6 linked regions of the Homo sapiens genome follow. The protein of the gene in region 3 purifies or fractionates together with the protein of the main gene of each other region. This does not show direct contact. Each region holds a gene or a part of one and is shown on either strand. Other genes may lie near its edges.

What was found.
Region 1: the proteins of MARCHF2 (region 3) and TM9SF2 purify together in Homo sapiens (affinity purification with mass spectrometry, with the first as the bait; one large-scale study listed by BioGRID). This does not show direct contact.
Region 2: the proteins of MARCHF2 (region 3) and HADH purify together in Homo sapiens (affinity purification with mass spectrometry, with the first as the bait; one large-scale study listed by BioGRID). This does not show direct contact.
Region 4: the proteins of MARCHF2 (region 3) and ALDH9A1 purify together in Homo sapiens (affinity purification with mass spectrometry, with the first as the bait; one large-scale study listed by BioGRID). This does not show direct contact.
Region 5: the proteins of MARCHF2 (region 3) and HAVCR1 purify together in Homo sapiens (affinity purification with western blotting; one study listed by BioGRID). This does not show direct contact.
Region 6: the proteins of MARCHF2 (region 3) and PI4K2A purify together in Homo sapiens (affinity purification with mass spectrometry, with the first as the bait; one large-scale study listed by BioGRID). This does not show direct contact.

Annotation. Positions count from the first base shown.
Region 1 is NC_000013.11:99,507,972-99,511,471, reverse strand, and holds part of TM9SF2 (transmembrane 9 superfamily member 2 precursor), read right to left. Parts: intron 1-3,500. UniProt on the Homo sapiens protein: In the intracellular compartments, may function as a channel or small molecule transporter.
Region 2 is NC_000004.12:108,027,889-108,031,388, reverse strand, and holds part of HADH (hydroxyacyl-coenzyme A dehydrogenase, mitochondrial isoform 2 precursor), read right to left. Parts: intron 3,451-3,500; exon of another isoform or gene 3,320-3,450; intron 1-3,319. UniProt on the Homo sapiens protein: Mitochondrial fatty acid beta-oxidation enzyme that catalyzes the third step of the beta-oxidation cycle for medium and short-chain 3-hydroxy fatty acyl-CoAs (C4 to C10).
Region 3 is NC_000019.10:8,426,805-8,430,304, reverse strand, and holds part of MARCHF2 (E3 ubiquitin-protein ligase MARCHF2), read right to left. Parts: intron 1-3,500. UniProt on the Homo sapiens protein: E3 ubiquitin-protein ligase that may mediate ubiquitination of TFRC and CD86, and promote their subsequent endocytosis and sorting to lysosomes via multivesicular bodies.
Region 4 is NC_000001.11:165,671,063-165,674,562, forward strand, and holds part of ALDH9A1 (4-trimethylaminobutyraldehyde dehydrogenase isoform 1 precursor), read right to left. Parts: intron 1-3,500. UniProt on the Homo sapiens protein: Converts gamma-trimethylaminobutyraldehyde into gamma-butyrobetaine with high efficiency (in vitro). Can catalyze the irreversible oxidation of a broad range of aldehydes to the corresponding acids in an NAD-dependent reaction, but with low efficiency.
Region 5 is NC_000005.10:157,056,317-157,060,459, forward strand, and holds the start of HAVCR1 (hepatitis A virus cellular receptor 1 isoform a precursor), read right to left. Parts: upstream 2,801-4,143; 5' UTR 2,605-2,800; intron 1,926-2,604; exon of another isoform or gene 1,640-1,925; 5' UTR 1,628-1,639; coding exon 1,582-1,627; intron 1-1,581. UniProt on the Homo sapiens protein: Phosphatidylserine receptor that plays an important functional role in regulatory B-cells homeostasis including generation, expansion and suppressor functions.
Region 6 is NC_000010.11:97,674,303-97,676,934, reverse strand, and holds the end of PI4K2A (phosphatidylinositol 4-kinase type 2-alpha), read right to left. Parts: 3' UTR 501-2,632; downstream 1-500. UniProt on the Homo sapiens protein: Membrane-bound phosphatidylinositol-4 kinase (PI4-kinase) that catalyzes the phosphorylation of phosphatidylinositol (PI) to phosphatidylinositol 4-phosphate (PI4P), a lipid that plays important roles in endocytosis, Golgi function, protein sorting and membrane trafficking and is required for prolonged survival of neurons.

The sequences.
Region 1 (3,500 bases), on a different chromosome or scaffold from region 3:
AGAAATTTCAAAAGTGTCATAAGAATGAGATCCTCCTAATATGTCAGTGGAACAATTGTTAAAAATTGGAAGAAAGGAAATGAGACTGCCGGGGAGTTTATATAGTTCAATAAAGAGCTTCAAGCTGAACCATGTGAAAGTATGCCACAGATGTCATGACATTCACCCCTATAAAACATAAATACACACAAATAAGACAAGTATGAAAAAATGTAAACAACTGTTGATTCTAGGTGGTCTAGGTGAGTGAAAGGTGATCATTACACTACTCTTTCAACTTTTTGAATTTTGAAAACTGTCACAATTAAAAGCCAGAAAAAGGGCTTTGAAGTTGAGAGTAGACCTTAGTCTCACTGTAAAGCAACAGAAGGCAAACAAAAACAATAAGAAAGATTTAAAAAGTAAAATTTAGGGTGGAAAAGTGTTCCAGGAGCAGGAACGATGATCTCAGGAGAAGCCAATTTATTAAATAGGAAAAAAATAGTAGAATTTGCAATATATTTGAAAACCAAAGAACATTTACAACAACAGATCCTGAAGACCACGAGAAACTCAATCAGCCAATACATGTATTTAATGCCCACAAAGTCCTATACTAGACATTTTGGATGACAAAATAATACAAATTCATGAACACTTGCCTTCAAAGAATTTATAATCCAGATGGAAACACAACGCATGTGTTTGAATATATGTCCTTGTCTAAATCTCATGTCAAATTGTATTCTCCAGTGTTGGAGGTGGAGCTTGCTGGGAGGTGACTGGATCATGAGGGTGAATTTCTAATGAATGGTTTAGCACCATCTCTCTTGGTGCTGTCCTCCTGATAATGAGTTCTTGTGAGATCTGGTTGTTTGTAAAGTGTGGCACCTGCCCCCACTCTCTCTTGCTCCTGTGTAACCATATGACACGCCTGCTCCTGCTTCATCTCCTGCCATGAGTAAAAGCTTCCTGAGGCCTCCCCAGAAGCAGAGTGATGTCGGTGCATGCTTGTACAGCCTGCAGAATCGTGAGCCAATTAAACCTCTTTTCTTTATAAATTACCCAGTCTCAGGTATTTCTTTATAGCAATGCAAGAAGAGCCTAACAAAGAAAATTGGTGCCGAGGATGGGGTGTTGTTATAAAGATACCTGAAAATGTGGAACTGGTTTTGGAACTGGGAAACAGGCAGAGTTTGGAGGGCTCAGAAGAAGATAGGAAGATGAGGCAAAGTTTGGAACTTCTTAAGAGACTGTTTAAATGGTTGTGACCAAAACATTGATAGTGATATGGACAGTAAAGTCAGGCTGCTGAGGTCTGAGATGGAAATGAGAAGGTTACTGGGAACTTGTGCAAAGGTCACACGTGTTACGTCTCAGCAAAGAGCTTGACTTGCATTCTATTCATGCCCTAGGGATCTGTGGAACTCTGCACTAAAGAGTGACAACCTAGTATATATGGTAGAAGAAATTTTTAAGCAGCAAAGTATTCAAGAGGTAACCTGGCTGCTTCTAACAGCCTATCTTAGCTGAAGGGTCAAATAAATGATTTAAAGCTGGAATTTATATTTAAACAGGAAGCAGAGCACAAACATTCAGAAAATTTGCAGCCTAACCATGTGGCAAAGAAAAAAAAAGTTTTTTCTGGAGAGAAATTCAAGCAGGCTGTGGGGCAACCGCATGCTACAGATATCTGCATAACTAAAAGGGAGCCAAGTGCTAATATCCAAGACTACGGGGAAAAGGCTTCAAAGGTATTTCAGAGACCTTTGCAGCAGCCCCTCCCACCACAGGCCCAGAGGCCCAGGAGGACTGAATGGGTTTATAGGTCAGACCCAGGGCCCCACTGCCCTGTGCAGCCTTGGGATCCCAGCATTCAGGCCACTCCAGCTCCAGCCATGGCTCAAAGAGGCTGAGGTACAGCTTGGGCTGCCATTTACAGAATGCAAGCCGTAAGTCTTGGTGGCTTCCATGTGGTGTTAAGCCTGCAGGCACACAGAGTTCAAGAGCGAAGAATGCTTGGCAGCCTCTGCCTAGATTTCAGAGGATGAGAAAACCTGGGTGCCCAGGTAGAAGCCTGCTGCAGGGATGGAGCCCCCACAAAGCACCTTTAGTAGGGCAGTGTGGAGGGGAAATGTGGTGTTGGAGCCCCATTCAGAGTCCCCGCCAGGGTACTGCCTAGTGGAGCTGTGAGAAGGGGGACATTGTCCTCCAGACTCCAGAATAGTAGATTCATTGGCAGCTTACACCCTGTGCCTGGAAAAGCTACAGGCACTGAACAACCTGTGAGAACAGCTGTGGGGGTTGAACCTTGTAAAGCTACAATGGTGGAGCTGCCCAAGGCCTGGGAATATTTACCCAATGCCTATAGCCCCTTTGTGTCTTGGAAGTAAGTAACTTGTTTTTGCTTTTTTATTTTACAGGCTCATAGGTAGAAGGGACTTTCCTTGTCTCAAATGAGACTTGGGCTTGGGACTTTTGAATTAATGCTGCAGTCAGTTAAGATTTTGGGAGACTATTAGGAAGGCATGATTGTATTTTGCAATATAAGAAGGACATGAGATTTGAGTATTTTTCCCCACTCAAATCTTATGTCAAGCTGTAATCCCTAATGCTGGAGGTAGGGCCTGGTGGGAGGTGACTAGATCATGGGGGTAGATGTCTAATGAATGGGTTGGCACCACTCCCTTGGTGCTGCCCTCATGATGGTGAGTGAGTCCTTGTGAGATCTGCTTGTTGTAAAGTGTGGCATCTCGCTCAACAGAAAACTCTTTCACTCCTGCTTTTACCATGTGACATGCCTGCTCCTGCTTCACCTTCTGCCATGAGTAAAAATTTCCTGAGGTTCCCACTAGAAGTCGAGCGATGTCCGTGCCATGCTTGTACAGCCTGCAGAACTGTGGGCCAATTAAACATCTTTTCTTTATAAATTACCCAGTCTCAGGTATTTCTTTACAGCAACACAAGAACAGCCTAATACAGCATATATTAAAAAAAAAATGACAGCACTTATTTATATGTTCTTGGAGTAGCTACTGAATCTCTGGGGTGTGTGTGTGTGTGTGTGTGTGTGTGTGTGTGTGTGTGTTTTGTTTGCCTTTTTTTTCCCACTCTAAACATCTTTATTCACCATCCAAAAGAGTTAAGTCCATCTCCTCCCAGAAATTTGCCTTAAATAGAGACAGATGACTCTAGATTATCACTGATGTGACTAGAAAGAACTTCAAGGTTTACTTGCTTCACATTCCCACTTTCAAACTGTCCCCACCTAGGTTATTTCAAGCATGCAAAATTTTGACAACATGAAACATTTTAAGGAAGTTGCAGAATCCTATGTCACTTAGAGAAAGCAAGACTGATTACAATCCTGTACTATGAAATGTTTTATAGAAGTGGTTTTATTTAGAACTCTACAGTCTTCCTTTTAAATTTCTCTCCTAAATGTACAATTTTATTTCTAGTCCTAATCTGCCAGTTCCATACCTGATCCCAGCTATGGTCACAACTAGTCTATTTTTTTG
Region 2 (3,500 bases), on a different chromosome or scaffold from region 3:
TTGGGATATGCTCCCTGTGCCTAGGTGCTGCCCTCAGACAGCTTCGGAGCTCAGTCTCTCACTTCCTCCAGGCCTCTGCTCAGGTGTCATACTTCTGACAGCCTCTTCTCCTCCCTGCATATATAAAAAAAGCAACTCCCTGCACTAAAGAAAAGGCCAGGACACTAGGACAAGACTCTTGCCACCCCTTACTATCTTCTTCTCCACAATTACTCATCACAACCTAACATGCTTATGTACTGGTTCATTTGTTACTGGCAGTCTCCCTGGGACAGAAATCTGACAGCATAATGGTTGCAACTCAGCTAAAGCCATTTAATGAAATCTATATTCAAGGACAGGACAATTAACCCTAGAAGCAACGCTGTAATTCCATATTCAGAGACTCACTTGAGGACTGTTTTATTTCAAGAAATAATATGAAGATACAGCACATGATAGAAAAATATCTAAATAACTCTACAAAGTCAGCCCAACTCTAAAGATCGTGTTCTCAATAATGCAGAGCAAAAGAGGCAAACTTTCAGAAACAGAGAAACAAAATACAGAGATTGGTGTGCCAAGTGACAGTTAGATGTGGAATCATGTTTTAAACTAATAATTCTTAAACTTCTTTAGAATCAAGTACTTCTGACAATCAGACACCCTTTCCATAAAAAATGCACATATAACCCAAATTCTGCGTCAACTTTAGGAGGTTCATTGGACACCCTCTCCTACCTCCCTCCAGTTAAGAGCCCCTAACTCCAGACAAGACAGCAAAGGAAAGCTTCCTCAGTGAACTCCAGATCAGCACAGCTGAGGGGCTGGGACTTGCCCAACATCTGCTTCTTTGTCTGGCTCAGCAGCACCACCTGCCAACCATTCTTAGCATGAACAACAGAGGCACTTAGCAACAACTCAGAAACAGCATTTTTACTCATCAGCAGCTGCCTATGTGCCCGCCCTACACAGCACCTTGGGACATATGAAGATGAGGAGGAGCCAGAGTGCCCCAGAAAAGAGAGTATAGTAAGGGAAAGAAAACACCTGCCATGCCACAGGGAAGACAGTGACAAGTGACCCAAGGGAGAGCCAAAGCAAGAAGAGTTGTGATGACAGAGATGATGTCCAGCTGGGAGCTCTGCAGACACTCAGGTGGGGCAACGTGGGAATGGCAGGAGTAGTTGGCGGTGATAACAGCAGGGGCAGAGGTTGGCCAGAAGGAAGGCTCTCTGGCAGAGCTTGTAGATGGCAGGAAACCAGAGAACCACTGAGCCTGTCTTGAGCAGGGGCGACAATGTGAGCAAGATGTCACATGGTGACTGGGGGGCAGGCTCATGGTGCTCCCAGGCCTGTTGCCAGCAGAGCCCTCCTGAGAAGAGCTGACCATTTGGCCCCACCATCCTGCCCACACTGGCCATTAGGAGTGGGTGCCTGGCAAGGGCAGCAGTCCACTGTCAGACACAGCCTATCCAGCCTCTGTCCCTCTGACTCACAGGAGTGACAGTGACTGGGGCATGCATCAGGCCTCAGTCACAGTGTGAACGAACAAGAGCAATAGGAAGAGTGAGGACGGAGCTGGGATACTGGGAAAGAAGGCCCAACATGGAAGCCAAAATGAGTGGACAAACAGCAGAGCAAAAGGGCGTGAGCCTCCACGAGATCCCATGGGGACTGGCAAGAAGTGTTAGTGGCAGAGGCCCGGTCATCCAGGAGGCCTGACCTACAACAGCACACACATCCTTCCAGAGAGCCTGCACCACTCAAGGCAGCATTGGCCAAACCATGTGCCTGGAACCCCAGGTGTATCAACAGTGGGGTACAGAAAATTTCTCCTTGCATGAGTTCAGAAACAGTCACAGAGCTCCTGCCGAGGCTGTGCAGGGGGTGTGTGGGCAGATGCAGTAGGCGGTGTCTCAACTTCCTGGACAATATGATACTTTCTCAGTAAGTGCAGTAGCGGGGACCAGTCAGGAAAAGACATGAGTAGCGTGAATTACTCTGCTACCTAAGGAACCTCATGAAGGCAGCCTGACTGGGATGGGGAAAAGGTGGGATGAAGAGGTGGAACAGGCATGACAGGAAGGAATCAAAAGTGATGAACAGATGTGGCAGACGAGAAGGAGCCTCCAGATGCTTGAAGCTTCAAGGTGGAACTGTATGAACGGAGATGGCACGGTGGGCATGCTCTGAGCACTCCTCTGTGTTGGCTGAGAGGAGGGAGCAGGTGGTGGGCGGGGGGACATGGTAAGAGGCCTAGGGTGTGACTGTAGTGTGCAGTAGGGAAGCAGCACCCACCCCAGGCAGGACACCCAGCAACTTCAGAAGCAGATTCTGAGAAGGTGGTGGAAAAAGAAGCAGAGGGACCAGCAATGATAGGCTGTTGAAGCCCATGCCCAGAGCAAGCTAAGAGCATGTCCTGAGGCCAGGTCCTGCTCTTCCAGCTTCAGCCCACAGGCGGCCAGGGATGGTGAGGGCTAAAGGGCATGCACCTATGCAGAAAGGGACCACAGACAAGAAGAGGGCTTTCAACTTACCATCTGATACTTGGTGCATTGGAGAATGCATCAAATGGACAGTGAGGAAAACACCATTAAAAGGTGGATCTCTCACATGCTACATTCTAAAACATTACATTTTGTTAAAAAAAAAAAAAAGACATACAACTGCCTTTCAAGGTAGGGTAAAATGCTCTGTGCTTTCTTTGAGGTGTAATTAGGCATATTTGTTGATAGATAAACCAGAACTGTTGGTTTGATCTTGGAGCAAAAGTGAGGCAATTGCTTCCATAAACCATAGAGAAAAGTTTTAATATTTAAAGCAGATTTTGAGGAAGCAAATGTGCTTTCATCTCTCTGGAAGAGCTGGTGTAAATGTTTTGTTTAAAAAATGACACTCTCAGGAGTGAGCATTTATGAATGAAGTAATTGAAAACAATTACACTTGCTTTTTATCCAGTCCTATTAAGGCTTGTTTGCCTTTGAAGCAGACATGAGAGCTACCTTTCCAGAAACCAGGGAGGGAAAGCAGGCAGGAGAATGCAGATCAATTTAGAGGCCTGGACCCTGTCCCAAATCTGATATTTCTACAGCAGAGAAAAGCATTCTTTGTCAATCAAGTACTGAGGAAAACTGTTTACACCATTCTTAAGGTTACAAAAAGTACATCATGACATCACTCAGTAAGGACAGACTACTAAAAACTGTCCTTACCACATATCGGCCTTGTCACATATTTCTAATCACCTGTCAGTCACAAGTTTTAGAACCTTAAGGAACTTTCAAGATCTCCTAGCCTAGTGATTTTTACATTATGATTATTTTTAAAAGCAGTAAACCTTTTAATCAAAAGCAGAGATCCAGGATATCAATCTGGGCCGGCCATGCAATTGCTCTGGCTGGGACTGTAGTGGGGGTGGTGGGAGTTCCAGAAACCTTTCTCAGAGGCCCACAGGGAAGCCAGGAGGCCCTGGGAAAACAGTGAAAAAGGTACCAGGGCTCAGGGTGCAGCTGAGCTCA
Region 3 (3,500 bases):
TGCAACCTCAACATCCCAGGTTCAAGCGATTCTCCCACCTCAGCCTCCCGAGTAGCTGGGATTATAGGCAAGCGCCACCATGCCCTGCTAATTTTGTATTTTTAGTAGAGATGGGGTTTCACCATGTTTGTCAGGCTGGTCTCGAACTTGTGACCTTAAGTGATCTGCCCACCTCGGCCTTCCAAAGTTCTGGGATTACAGGTGTGAGCCACCACGCCTGGCCCTTTCCTTCTTTCAAACATTTATTGAGCCCATGAGGAGCCAGGCCCTGCCAGGTGCTGGGCACATTTACCCCCATTTTACAGATGGGGAAACTGAGGCACAGAGGAATTAACTCAAGTGAGCAAACTCACACAGCTACATAGTCCACAAAGCTGGGGTTCCAACCTGGGAAGTCTTGCTCCAGGGCCGAAGCGTCTTTGGCTACTAATCTACTACGCTTGGCCTTCCCCAGATGACAGGCCAAAAGAAATGGGCTAAAAAAAAAAAAAAAAAAAAAAAGCCCTGGTGTGGTGGTTCACGTCTGTAATCCTAGCACTTTGGCAGGCCAAAGTGGGTGGATCACTTGAGGCCAGGAGGTCAAGACCAGCCTGGCTAACATGGAGAAACCCTGCCTCTACTAAAAATACAAAATTAGCTGGGCGTGGTAGCACGCACCTATAATCCCAGCTACTCAGGAGGCTGAGGCAGGAGAATTGCTTGAACCCAGGAGGTGGAGGTTGCAGTAAGCCAAGATCGTGCCACTGCACTCCAGCCTGGGTGACAGAGTAAGACTCTGTCTCAAAATAATAATAATAATAATAATAATAATAATAATAATAATAAGTTCTTTCATTTCTTTGATTTTTTTGTAGAGACAGGGTCTTGCTGTGTTGCCCAGGCTGGTCTTGAACTCCTGGCCTCAAGTGATCTTCCCACCTTGGCTTCCCAAAGTGCTGGGATTACAGGCATGAGCTACCACACCCAGCCAAGAAATGGGCTTAATTCATGAAATTCTGGTGGATGAGACAGAAAGGGCCCCTGCCCTCCCATGCTGGCAGTGGAGGTATGAAATGGGTGAACGGTCACATGGGGCAAGGCCTTGCCAAGGAGGTGACATTGAAGAGAACGGAATGAACAGAAGGAACCACGTGAAGAATGGGGGAGATGGGGCTCTAGGCTGCAGGGGCGGCAGATGCAAAGGCCCTGGGATAGGGGGAGGCGGCCTAGACAAGATGTGTGGGGAGGGGGCTGTGTGGCTGTAGCACGGAGACCAAAGTGGGTGTGGGAGGGTGTGTGAAGGGGCTGGACCTCCCTCCCACTTTTCTCCCTACACTCTGGCTCCTAGGTGGGCCAGGGGCTTTTCTAGGGTTTTTGTTTTTTGTTTTTTGAGACGGAGTTTCGCTCTTGTTGCCCAGGCTGGAGTGCTGTGGTGCAATCTTGGCTCACTGCAACCTCCGCCTTCCGGGTTCAAGCTGGGATTACAGGCCCCCGCCACCATGCCCAGCTAATTTTTGTATTTTTAGTAGAGACGGTGTTTTACCACATTGGCCAGGCTGGTCTCGAACTCCTGAACTCAGGTGATCCACCCACCTCTGCCTCCCAAAGTGCTGGGATTGTGAGCCACCACGTCCAGCCTTGGTTTTTTTTTTTTTTTTTTTTTTTTTTTTTTTTTTGAGATAGAGTCTCAATCTGTTGCCCAGGCTGGAGTGCAGTGGCGCTATCTCAACTCACTGCAAACTCCGCCTCCCAGCTTTAAGTGATTCTCCTGCCTCAGCCTCCCAAGTAGCTGGGATTACAGGCATGCGCCACCACACCTAGCTTTTTCCTCATCGTTTGAGACAGAGTTTTGCTTTGTCACCCAGGCTGGAGTGCAGTGGCTTAGTCTCAGCTCACTGCAACCTCCGCCTCCCGGGTTCAAGCAATTCTCCTGCCTCAGCCTCCCTAGGGTTCAAGCAATTCTCCTGCCTCAGCCTCCCTAGGGTTCAAGCCAGTCTCCTGCCTCAGCCTCCCTAGTGGATGGGATTATAGGCACCCACCACCATACCTGGCTAATTTTTTTTTTTGAGATGGAGTCTCACTCTGTCGCCCAGGCTGGAGTGCAGTGGCCTGATCTCAGCTCACTGCAAGCTCCGCCTCCTGGATTCAGGCCATTCTCCTGCCTCAGCCTCCCGAGTAGCTGGGACTATAGGCACCTGCAACCACGCCCGGCTAATTTTTTGTATTTTTAGTAGAGATGGGGTTTCACCATGTTAGCCAGGAAGGTCTTGATCTCCTGACCTCGTGATCCGCCCGCCTCGGCCTCCCCAAGTGCTGGGATTACAGGCATGAGCCACCGTGCCCAGCCCACACCTGGCTAATTTTGTATAGCTAGTAGAGACAGGGTTTTCCCATGTTGGCCAGGCTGGTCTTTAACTCCTGACCTCAGGTGATCCATGCATCTTGGCCTCCCAAAGTGCTAGGATTACAGGCGTGAGCCACCGTGTCTGGACTTTTTTTTTTTTTTTTTGTATTTTTTGTATTTTTAGTAGAGACGGGGTTTCACCATGTTGGCCAGGCTGGTCTCGAACTCCTGACCTCAAGTGATCTGCCCGCCTCGGCCTCCCGAAGTGCTGGGATTACAGGCATGAGCCACCGCGCCCGGCAGCTTGTTCCTTTTCATCTCTCAGGCCTCAGCTGGGGGGTTCACCTCCTTTTGAGGCCTTGCCTGACACCCCAAGTTGCCCCACCCCCTGTGACATGTTTTTCCCTTACTGCACTATTGCTCCCAGAAACCAGTTGCTTCGTTGATTTTTTTTTTTTTTTTCTGTAACCTCATATCAGAAGCGATGCTTTGAAGTCCAGATTAAAGTTACTGGACTTTAATCTCCATGAGTGCCCAGCCCTACGTGTCTTGTTGGTGGCTGGGTCCCCAGTGCCTAACAGAGTGCTGGGCATGCTGGAGGTGCCCAGGAAATCTCTGCTAATGAAAGACACAGGCTGGGAGCGGTGGCTCATGCCTGTAATCCCAGCACTTTGGGAGGCTGAGGTGGGCAGATCACTTGAGGTCAGGAGTTCGAGACCAGCCTGGCCAACATGGTGAAACCGCATCTCTACTAAAAATACAGAAAATTAGCTGGGCATGGTGGCGCACGCCTGTCATCCCAGCTACTTGGGAGGCTGAAGCAGAAGAATCGCTTGAACCTGGGAGGCAGAAGTTGCAGTGAGCCGAGATCGCACCACTGCACTCCAGCCTGGACAAGAGTTAGACTCTGTCTCAAAAAAAAGAAGAAGGAGAAGGAAGAAGAAGAAAGAAGAAGAAGAAAGACTGAATGAAAACAGGGAGAGGTTAATGGGTCTGGGAGCTCTTAAACCCTAGGCCTGGTTTCTGACACACCATCAGCAGACCCACCTGGTGGACAGGGGCGGTAGGGAGTTCTGCCCTAGGAGGACCACCAGATTGCCCGGGGCAGCTCCTGCCTTTGGCCCCCATGTCTGCCCTCTCCCCACTGCCCACCGCAGTCTCAGACTCTTAAGGGTAC
Region 4 (3,500 bases), on a different chromosome or scaffold from region 3:
TCCGTCTCAAAGATAATAAATAAATAAACAAACAAACAAACTGAAATTAAAACTATACTGAAATACCACTTCTCATCTATCTGATAAAAATTTAAAATTGTGACTATATATGCTGTTAAGAAAGGCTATGAAGAAATAGGTACTCATGCATCGTTAGTAAGAATGTTCCTTTTGCTGCCTGACAGCTGCCATCATGGGTCACATGCACGCTTCTGGGAAGGGTCTGTCTCAGTCAGCTTTGCTCTATCGCTGCAGCATCCCCACTGAAGTGGGGTTGCTGAAGTAGGGGCTGAAGTTGACATCTGACGACATGAAGGAGCAGATTTAAAAACTGGCCAAGAAGGGCCTGACTCCTTCACAAATCGGTGGGATCCTGAGAGATTCACATGATGCTGCACAAGTACGATTTGTGACAGGCAATAAAATCTTAAGAATTCTTAAGTCTAAGGGACCGCTCCTAATCTCCCTGAAGATCTCTACCATTTAATTAAGGCAGCAGTTGCTGTTCAAAAGCTTCTTGAGAGGAAGAGAAAGGATGAGGATGCTAAATTCTGTCTGATTCTGATAGAGAGCCGGATTCACTGTTTGGCTCGATATTATAAGACCAAGTGAGTCCTCTCTCCCAACTGGAAATATGAATCATATACAGCCTCTGCCCTGGTTGCATAAATTTGTCTATGTACTTGAGCAATAAAATAATTGCTTAACTAACAAACAAAAAAAAAAGAATGCAACATTTCCTTTTAGAGAGGGATTTGGCAATATCTTATAAAATTACATATGCAGTCAATATCACTAATAATCAGGGAAATGCAAATCAAAACCACAATGAGATACCACTTCATACCCAATAGGATGACTATTATCAAAAACAGAGAAAGCAAGAAAATAAGAAAATAACATGTGTTGGCAAGGATGTAGAGAAATTGGAAACTTTGTGCATTGCTTGTAGAAATGTAAAATGGTGCTGCCATTGTAGGGCACAGTACAGTGGTTCCTCAAAAAATTAAACACTGAATTATCATATGATCCACTTATTCCACTTCTGGATATATACCCAAAAGAACTGAAAGCAGATACTTCTACTATAGATATCTGTACATCAATGTTCATAGCAACATTATTCACAACAGCCAAAAGTGGAAACCACCTAAGTGTTCACAAATAAAAAAATGGATAAACAAAATGTGGTATGTGTGTGCTGTGTGTGTGTGTATGTGTGCTGTGTGTGTATACATACATACAATGGAATATTATTTAGCCTTAAAAAGGAAAGAAATTTTGACACATGCTACAACATGGATGAACCTGAAGATATTATACTAAGTGAAACGAGCCAGACATAAAATAATAAATATTGTATGATTGCATTTATAAAAGGTACGTAGAATAGTCAAATTCATAGAGACGGGAATTAGACTAGTGGTTACCAGAGGCTGAGGGGAGAGAGAAACAGAGTTATTATTTAATGGGGTACACAGTTTTCAATGTGGGGTGATGAAAAAGTTCTAGAGATGAATAATGATGATAGTTGTACACAACGTGAATGTATTAAATGTCACTGAACTCTACACTTAAAAATGGTTCAAAAAGGCCAGGTGTGGTGGCTCACGCCTGTAGTTCCAGCACCTTGGGAGGCTGAAGCAGGAGAATTGCTTGAGCTCAGGAGTTCAAGACCAGCATGGGCAACATGGCGAAATCTCATCTCTACAAAAAATACAAAAATTAGCCAGGCATGGTGCCACATGCCTATAGTCCCAGCTACCCAGGAGGCTGAAGTGGGAATATCACTTGAGCTTGGGAGGTTGAGGCTGCAGTGAGCTGGGATGATGTCACTGTACTCCAGCCTGAGCAACAGAGTAAGATCCTGTCTCCAAAAAATAAAAAAATAAAAAATAAAAAAAATACAAACACACACACACACACACACACACACACACACACACACACACGGTTAAATTGGTAAATTTTACATTAGGCTTTACCATACACACAAAAAAATCATCACAATATATAAGGAACTCACACTATTCAATTGCAAAAAAAAAAAAAAAAAACCTCTGATTACGAATGGGCAAAAGACCTGGATAGACATATTTCCAGAAACATACAAATGGCCAACAAGTTTATGAAAAGATGCTCCACATCACTAATCATCAGGAAAATGCAAATCAAAATCACAATGAGGTATCACTTCATATCTGTTAGCATGGTTATTATCAAAAAGATAAAAGATAACAAGTGTTGGTGAGGATGCGGAGAAAAGGAAATCTTGGTATACTGCTGGTGAGAATATAAATTAGTATAGGCTGCTCTGCCTATGGAGTAGCCATTCTTTATTCCTTTACTTTCTTAATAAACTTACTTTCACTTTATGGACTTGTCCTGAATTCTTTCTTGCACAAGATCCAAGAACCCTCTCTTGGGGTCTGGATCAGGGCCCCTTTGCAGTAACATCTTTCTGGCAAACCATGGAAGGGACAATACTGAGGAGATCCTCCCGACCCAAAAGAAATAGACTGCAGCACTGATTGGCCAACTCTGGATATCACCTTTTGTCGGAACTCAGAGTTATAAGCGACCCTCACCCTGACGCTTTCTGACTGAGCTCCTCTCTATCCTGAATACAAGAGACCCTAATAATTAGACAGGAATATCATTGCCCCTATTCAGCATGAAAAAGTTTACAGAAGATGGATCTTTGTCCCTCTGCAACCCTTAGGATTAAGGGTTCTTTTATAAAAGGGAGAGGGGAAATGTCACAGGTGTTTGAACTAGAGCAACTTCATCTTAAGTAGGGGCTGGGTAAAATAAGGCTGGGACGTACTGGACTGCATTCCCAAGAAGTTAGACATTCTAAGTCACAGGATAAGATAGGAGATCAGCACAAGATACAGGTCATAAAGACCTTGCTGATAAAACAAGCTGTGGTAAAGAAGCCAGCTAAGACCCACCAAAACCAAGATGGTGATGAGTGACCGCTGGTCGTCATTGCTGCTCATTATATGCTAATTATAATGCATCAACATGCTAAAAGACATACCCATCAGCACCATGACAGTTTACAAATGCCATGGCAACGTCATTTTACCCTATATGGTCTAAAATGAGGAGGCATGAATAACCCACCCCTTGTTTAGCATACGATCAAGAAATAACCACAAAAAGGGGCAACCAGCAGCCCCTGGGGCAGCTCTGCCTATGGAGTAGGCATTCTTTATTCCTTTACTTTCTTAATAAACTTCCTTTCACTAAAAAAAAAAAAAAAAAAAAAAAAAAGAATGTAAGTTAGTATAGCCATGAAGGAAAACAGGATAGGGGCTCTTTAAAAAATTAAAAATTGGCAGGGAACAGCGGCTCATGCCTGCAATCCCAGCACTTTGGGAGGCCGAGGTGGGCAGATCACCTGAGGTCAGGAGTTCGAGACCAGCCTGGCCAACATGGAGAAACCCCGTCTCTACTAAAAATACAAAATTAGTCAGGCGTGGTGGCACATGCCT
Region 5 (4,143 bases), on a different chromosome or scaffold from region 3:
GCATTTTTCTATGCTAGCATTCTTTTAATTTTTTTTTTTAGACAAAGTCTTTCTAAAAAGAATTTCTTCTTTTTTTTTTTTGAGACAGAGTCTTGCTCTGTCGCCCAGGCTGGAGTGCAGTGGTGTGATCTCGGCTCACTGCAAGCTCCGCCTCCCAGGTTCACGCCATTCTCCCGCCTCAGCCTCCCCAGCAGCTGAGACTACAGGCACACGCCGCCACGCCCGGCTAATTTTTTTGTATTTTTAGTAGAGACGGGGTTTCACCATGTTAGCCAGGATGGTCTCGATTTCCTGACCTCGTGATCTGCCCGCCTTGGCCTCCCAAAGTGCTGGGATTACAGGTGTGAGCCACCACGCCCGGCCACCAAGAAATTCTTGTTTAATTTTGCCTAATACTAGTATCATTTTTTTGGATTACACATATAATGCATGCTATTACAATTTGGTTATAGAAGTATATAATGAGAGATTATTTTTCCCCCATAATCCCAAAGGCATATATCACTCCAGAAATTTGTGTTTAAAAATTAGGATATGTCTATTTTACTCTTTCCTTATCTCATAGAATGTTTTGAATTAAAGTGTTTATTTCAAAATAAAATACTTAGGCCAGATGTGGTGGCTAACGCCTATAATCCCAGCACTTTGGGAGACTGAGGTGGGAGAATCACTTGAGCCCAGGAGGTCGAGGTTGCAGTGAATCAAGATTGCCCAACTAGGCCAGGCGCGGTGACTCACGCCTATAATTCCAGCACTTTGGGAGGCCGAGGCAGGTGGATCACAAGGTCAGGAGTTCAAGATCAGCTTGGCCAAGATGGGGAAACCTTGTCTCTACTAAAAATACAAAAAAATTAGCTGGTAGTGGTGGCAGGTACCTGTAATCCCAGCTACTTGGGAGACTGAGGCAGAGAATTGCTTGAACCCAGGAGGCGGAGGCTGCAGTGAGCCGAGATCACGCCACTGAACTCTAGCCTGGGCGACAGAGTGAGACTCTGTCTCAAAAAAAAAAAGATTGCCCTACTGCACTCCAGAGTGAGACCTCATGAAGAGAGAGAGAGAGAGAGAGAGAGGAAAGAAAGAAAGAAAGAAAGAAAGAAAGAAAGAAAGAAAGAAAGAAAGAAAGAAAGAAAGAAAGAAAGAAAGAAAGAGAATTGAATGTGGCTGAAAAAAATCGGAAGGCACAAAAAAATACAATAAGGATTAACTCTCCCTCCACCTCCCACCCTCTGCCCCCATCCCACATTACCCACTGTCACTATTTCCTATATACATGTGTCTATGCATATACATCTAACCACACCCTTTTTGTTTAAACACAAAGGGCAGCCTGTGACACACTGTGCTGCATCTTGCCTTGTTCATTTAGCCATGAATGTTGTAATTCACAGCAGTTAAGCAATTTCTTTGGCCTAAAACTTTATTCTGGTCCTGCTCACTAGTTAACTCATAGCCATACAACGGTACCCAAAGAACATCTACATTAATCCACCACCACCATCCCCTCCCCTTCCCCTACCCCATTCTCTGGCTTCTAACCCCCCTCTACTCCCTTCTTCCCGCCCAGGGCACCTACTCACTTACCTGCCAGATGTAGGATGAGGCTTAAGATGACCACTTGAGGATGCATTATGGGATCAGCCTGAAGGAAAATGAGCAGACAGGCTGGTTGGTACCCTCCACCAGATGGTATCTGATCAAGTCTTAAATCTCAGATTGCAACTTATCTTTTCACCCAGTTGGTTGATTCATATGAGCCTGCTCTGCTGGAAATGAGAGAAGACCACATATAACGGCTTCAGAGCTCTGTTAGTTCCCTGCAGCTGAGAGCTCTGTGCCTTCCAAAGGACAGGGAAAGCTGTCCACAGAAACAGCCCCTGACTTCCCAGCTTCTTCCCCACACATAACCGCCAAACTGACTCCTGGTCCTGATACAGGGTATCAGGGGAACAAACAAAAAGGAAACAGGGCCGGGCGCGGTGGCTCAAACCTGTAATCCTAGCACTTTGGGAGGCCAAGGCGGGCAGATCACGAAGTCAGGAGATCGAGACCATCCTGGCTAAAAGGGTGAAACCCCGTCTCTACTAAAAATACAAAAAATTAGCCGGGCGTGGTCACTGGCGCCTGTAGTCCCAGCTACTCGGGAGGCTGAGGCAGGAGAATGGCGTGAACCCGCGGGAGGCGGAGCTTGCGGTGAGCCGAGATCGCGCCACTGCACTCCAGCCTGGGCGACAGAGCAAGACTCCGTCTCAAAAAACAAAACAAAAAAAAAGAAAAGAAAAGGAAACTGGAAGCAGAGAACCAGCGTGGCTCAATGGCAGCACGAGAGCAAATGCCAGCCTTCCAGTGGCAGAGATGCACTTGCTTTTCAGAGTAAACTGGGCCTCTGGTGGACGTGGAGCTTTTCCTACTCAGTGGCCACAACGACTTATCCCTAGCCTTAACAGTCATATTGCCAAGTTTGCCATTAGCAAGAGAAATTGAGAGTGAATGTGAATCACTGTGCCTAACCTTTCATGCTCCTGTACAACATGCTTCAGACTACACCTCCTTACCAAGGGACTTCAAGAGAATGCTTCAGGAAACAGAAGTCTGGAGCAGACTTACGTTCAGATCCAGGCTCTGTCACTCACAATGCTGGGTAACCCTGAGAGTTCCTGAGTTCTCTTCAAACCTCTATTTCCTCAGTTGTAAAATAGCACTAAAAATGCTTCCTCTATCTCCCACCAAGGATTGATATAATAAGCAAAAAGGGCCACGGAAGAACTTGGAAAACTAAACCTACATCATATGCAGTAATAGCACTAGCTGAGGTTTTTGGAGAATACTATATAGCAGGCTCTGTGTCAAGCACCCACATGCGTTAAATCGGGCTGTTGACTTCTGCTGTTAATCATTAAACCATACAAACATGAGTAAGCTTGCCTAGTACTTCATTAACTCCTCTTCTGGTCTAAGAATTCAGTAACTTCCAAGGAGGCAGTGGTGGTCTGTATCTTGCAGCTCATGACAGGGTTCATGGGGAAGTGGATGATCTCAGCATAGTGTTTTGTATGGCAGCGTTTAAAAATTCATTTCTTGACCGGGCATGGTGGCTCGTGCCTGTAACCCCAGCACTTTGGGAGGCCGAGTAGGCCAGTCACCTGAGGTCGGGAGTTCAAGACCAGCCTGGCTAACACGGTGAAACCCCGACTCTACTAAAAATACAAAAATTAGCTGGGGGTGGTGGCGGGCGCCTGTAATCCCAGCTACTTAGGAGGCTGAGGTAGAAGAATTGCTTGAACCTGGAAGGTGGAGGTTGCAGTGAGCCGAGATCAAGCCATTGCACTCTAGCCTGGACAACAAGAACAAAACTCCATCTCAAAAATAAAAATAAAAATTCATTTCTTGCCAGGCACAGTGGCTCACGCCTGTAATCCCAACACTTTGGGAGGCCAAGGCAAGTGGATCACCTGAGGTAAGGAGTTTGAGACCAACCTGGGCAACATAGCAAGACTCCCTCTCTGCAAAAAAAACGAACAAAAAATATAGTCAGGCCTTGTGTACCTGACCGTAGTCCCAGCTACTCAGGAGGCTGAGGCAGGAGGGTTGCTTGAGCCCAGCAGTTGGAGGCTATGATTGTGCCACTGCACACCAGCCGGGGTGACAGAGCAAGACCCTGTTTCTTAAGGAAAAAAAGATTGAAAAAAAAAAGCTAATTCAATTCAACCAGTTATTACTAACATATTGAGCTGATGGGACATGACTCAATATACTAGGGACGTCAAAAATCCAGACTTGTGCAATCGGGCAGGGACATGGGTAAGTAAGCAACTAATGAAATCAGGATAAGTGAGGTAAAGGTAAATATATAATCAGACTACATCATTCCCCCACTTATAACCCTCTCATAACTCTCTCAGAAAAATAATAATAATAATAATAATAATAATTCCTAAATCTTTACTCAAATTACTGAAGCCCTGGTGGTCTGGCCCTGACCTACCCCATAGATTTCTTCTACCACTCTCTCCCCTGCTGACTCAGCCCCAGCTACTAGAGCTTTCTTTCCAACTTGCCTCAACCCTAAGGCCTTTTCCGTGGCTGTGTTCTCCATCTAGCTCCCCAGCCCCACCATTTTCACTTTTTTCCTTTTCATTTTTATCC
Region 6 (2,632 bases), on a different chromosome or scaffold from region 3:
CTTCTCCCTCTCCACCCACCCTATATGCTTGATTATTCAGGGTTTGAAGTGGGGCAGTGATGTACACAGGGCAGGGCTGCCCTCTGGTGGCCAAGAGGAGGAACCACTACTACCTTGAGTCAGGTAGGTCCTCTTTTTTATTTTATTGTTTATTTATTTATTTATTTATTTTTATTTACTGAGAGACAAAGTCTTACTCCAGGCTGGAATGCAGTGGTGCAATCTCGGCTCAGTGCAACCTCCAACTCCCGGGTTCAAGTGATTCTCCTGCCTCAGCCTCCCAAGTAGCTGGGATTACAGGCGTGTGCCACCACACCCAGCTAATTTTTGTATTTTTAGTAGAGACGAGGTTTCGCCATGTTGGCCAGGCTGGTCTCAAACTCCTGACCTCAAGCAATTCACCCACCTCAGCCTCCCAAAGTGCTGGGATTACTGGTGTGAGTCACTGCACCCAGCCTGTAGGTCCACATTTCTTATCCCAAGCCCTTGGCACTAGATTATTTTGGAATTCAGATTTTTTATTTTTGGCTCTTAGGAAGTAGTCAGCAAATACTGTATAATCCCTAGTAGGGAACCATGTCATAAAATATATTGACATTTCTGCAACAAAGAATCACACTAAAAGGAACACATCATAATTACCCATAGCTTCCTATCAGTGTAAGTTCAGGTCAGGTTTGGTTTCAAATGGGTTATGAAAATACTTTTGGTTTTCAGAGCATTGGGACTTTGGAAATGAGGACCTGGATCATCCTTTATTAGGGAGAAATAGCCCCAGGAGCCACGTCTCAGCAATTCCATGGAAACACAGGTTTCTTTGCCCTCAAAATTCCGTTCCTACCTTCTTTGTCTTCCTTCCCCCAAAGAAACTGGACAAAAAAGGTCAGAACTGTATTTGTTATTCATACATTTGCGTTGATTTAAATACATTACGTACAATTTCTACATTGGATTAGAAGAATGACACAGGGGGCAGCAACACTCTCGCAGCCCAGCCTCCATTCCCTGACACTGGAGGCAGGGCCTATGGCTGGCAGAGGGACGGTGTTCCATGAGTGCCACTCAGAAGCCTCCCCCGGCATTCTGGGCCCCTGGCTCTTCCAGAGTCCACATTCAAGGCAACCTGAGCACAGGCTTGAGGGAGAGTGGAGAAAGGCCAGGAAAGGATGCCCACACTCTTGCCTGCCAGGCCCAGGACCAGCTCTCTCCTACACTGGACCCAATTTCCTTCTGATCACAGAGCTGGTCTGGATCAAGACAATGTGGAGATCTGGTGTGGAGGCTGTGGCCAGGTGAGGCAGCCGGGCTCCCTGTTAGACCCCCAGGCTCTCTTGAGCACCAGATGGGCACTTTACCAACAGGTTTGGGTAAAAATGTCTACAGAGAGCTATGCACACCTGGGTCCCCTTCTGGCTCCTACAGTCAAGGGGCAAGTGTTCTCTCGAACATTGTTCCCAAGGCCAGTGTCCGAGTCAGCTGCATGTGATTGTCGGGGCTGGGATTGGGGCAGGCAGGCGAGCTGTACCTTCGTCCACAGGGCATGCACATCCAGCTCTCAGAAATTCTTCCTGTCAGCCAGGTGGAAGCCCGGGACAAGTGGACTCTTGGTGGCTGGACTGGAAGGGGACCGGCGGGGACCAGCCTGGACCAGCTGACCAGAGGGCTGCACATCTCTGCTCTGCAGCCGGGCAAGCAGAGGACATGCAGCCATAGTCCTCACTCCCTTTCTTTGGTTGTTTTTCAAACCTTCAAGATAGTTACTTTCTGAGGTTGACTGACCAATCGCAAGGTGCCAGAATTGTGAAATGTCCAGTAGCACAGGGCATGAACACAGCTGCCCCTCCAGACACAGATGGCACCCTTTTTACTCCCTCCTGAGGCCGTACTTTGCTTTGGTGTAGAAATGGCTCAAACACCTGGCAAGTGGGGGTGGGGAGTGAGGCAGCAGGGGAAAAGACACATGGAAGCAAGAAGATACGCACTGAGCTGCGCAGGACCTGGGACAGTTTGAAGGCCTCTCTCCTTTGGGCCTCACCTTTCTCAGGGAAGCCATAGAGAAATCGGCCTAGGACAAGTCAGAGAGAAAAGGGAAACTGCCACTTATGAGGCAGAATCCACGTCCTGTTACTTCCACCAAGCAGCAGCGGTAGCACAGAAAAAAGTCCAAGAACCTAATAGCCTGTCCTCTTGGAAGCCAAGACTCATCCCAGAGCCCTTGCAGAGACCCACTCCCGAAGACAAACTGAACTCTTACATCAAAAGAGTTGGGGGGAAAAAATTTAAAACGAGAGGAACAAATGAGAAGATTGGGACCAAGGACTCAGGAAGCAAGGTGGGATATGTTCACCCATAGACCACTTAGCTCCCGGCATACACTCCGGCTGCGTGGATCACTTTTACATGCTGGGAGTCAACTTCCTATTAAAATATAAATGCTAAGACTAGCTCTTCCTGCCTCTGCTTGAGAAACAGACAAGCTGTAGGCCAGCAGAGAGCAGAGAGGTTCTCTATGATTGTGTGCGGAAGTGCTGGCGGGGGTAAAGCAAAAACCTCCCTTCCAGGAGAACTGTTTCGAGGCTTGCAGCCAGCCCACAGCACTGATGGGAGATGGAGGAGGCTTGGCAAAAACCCA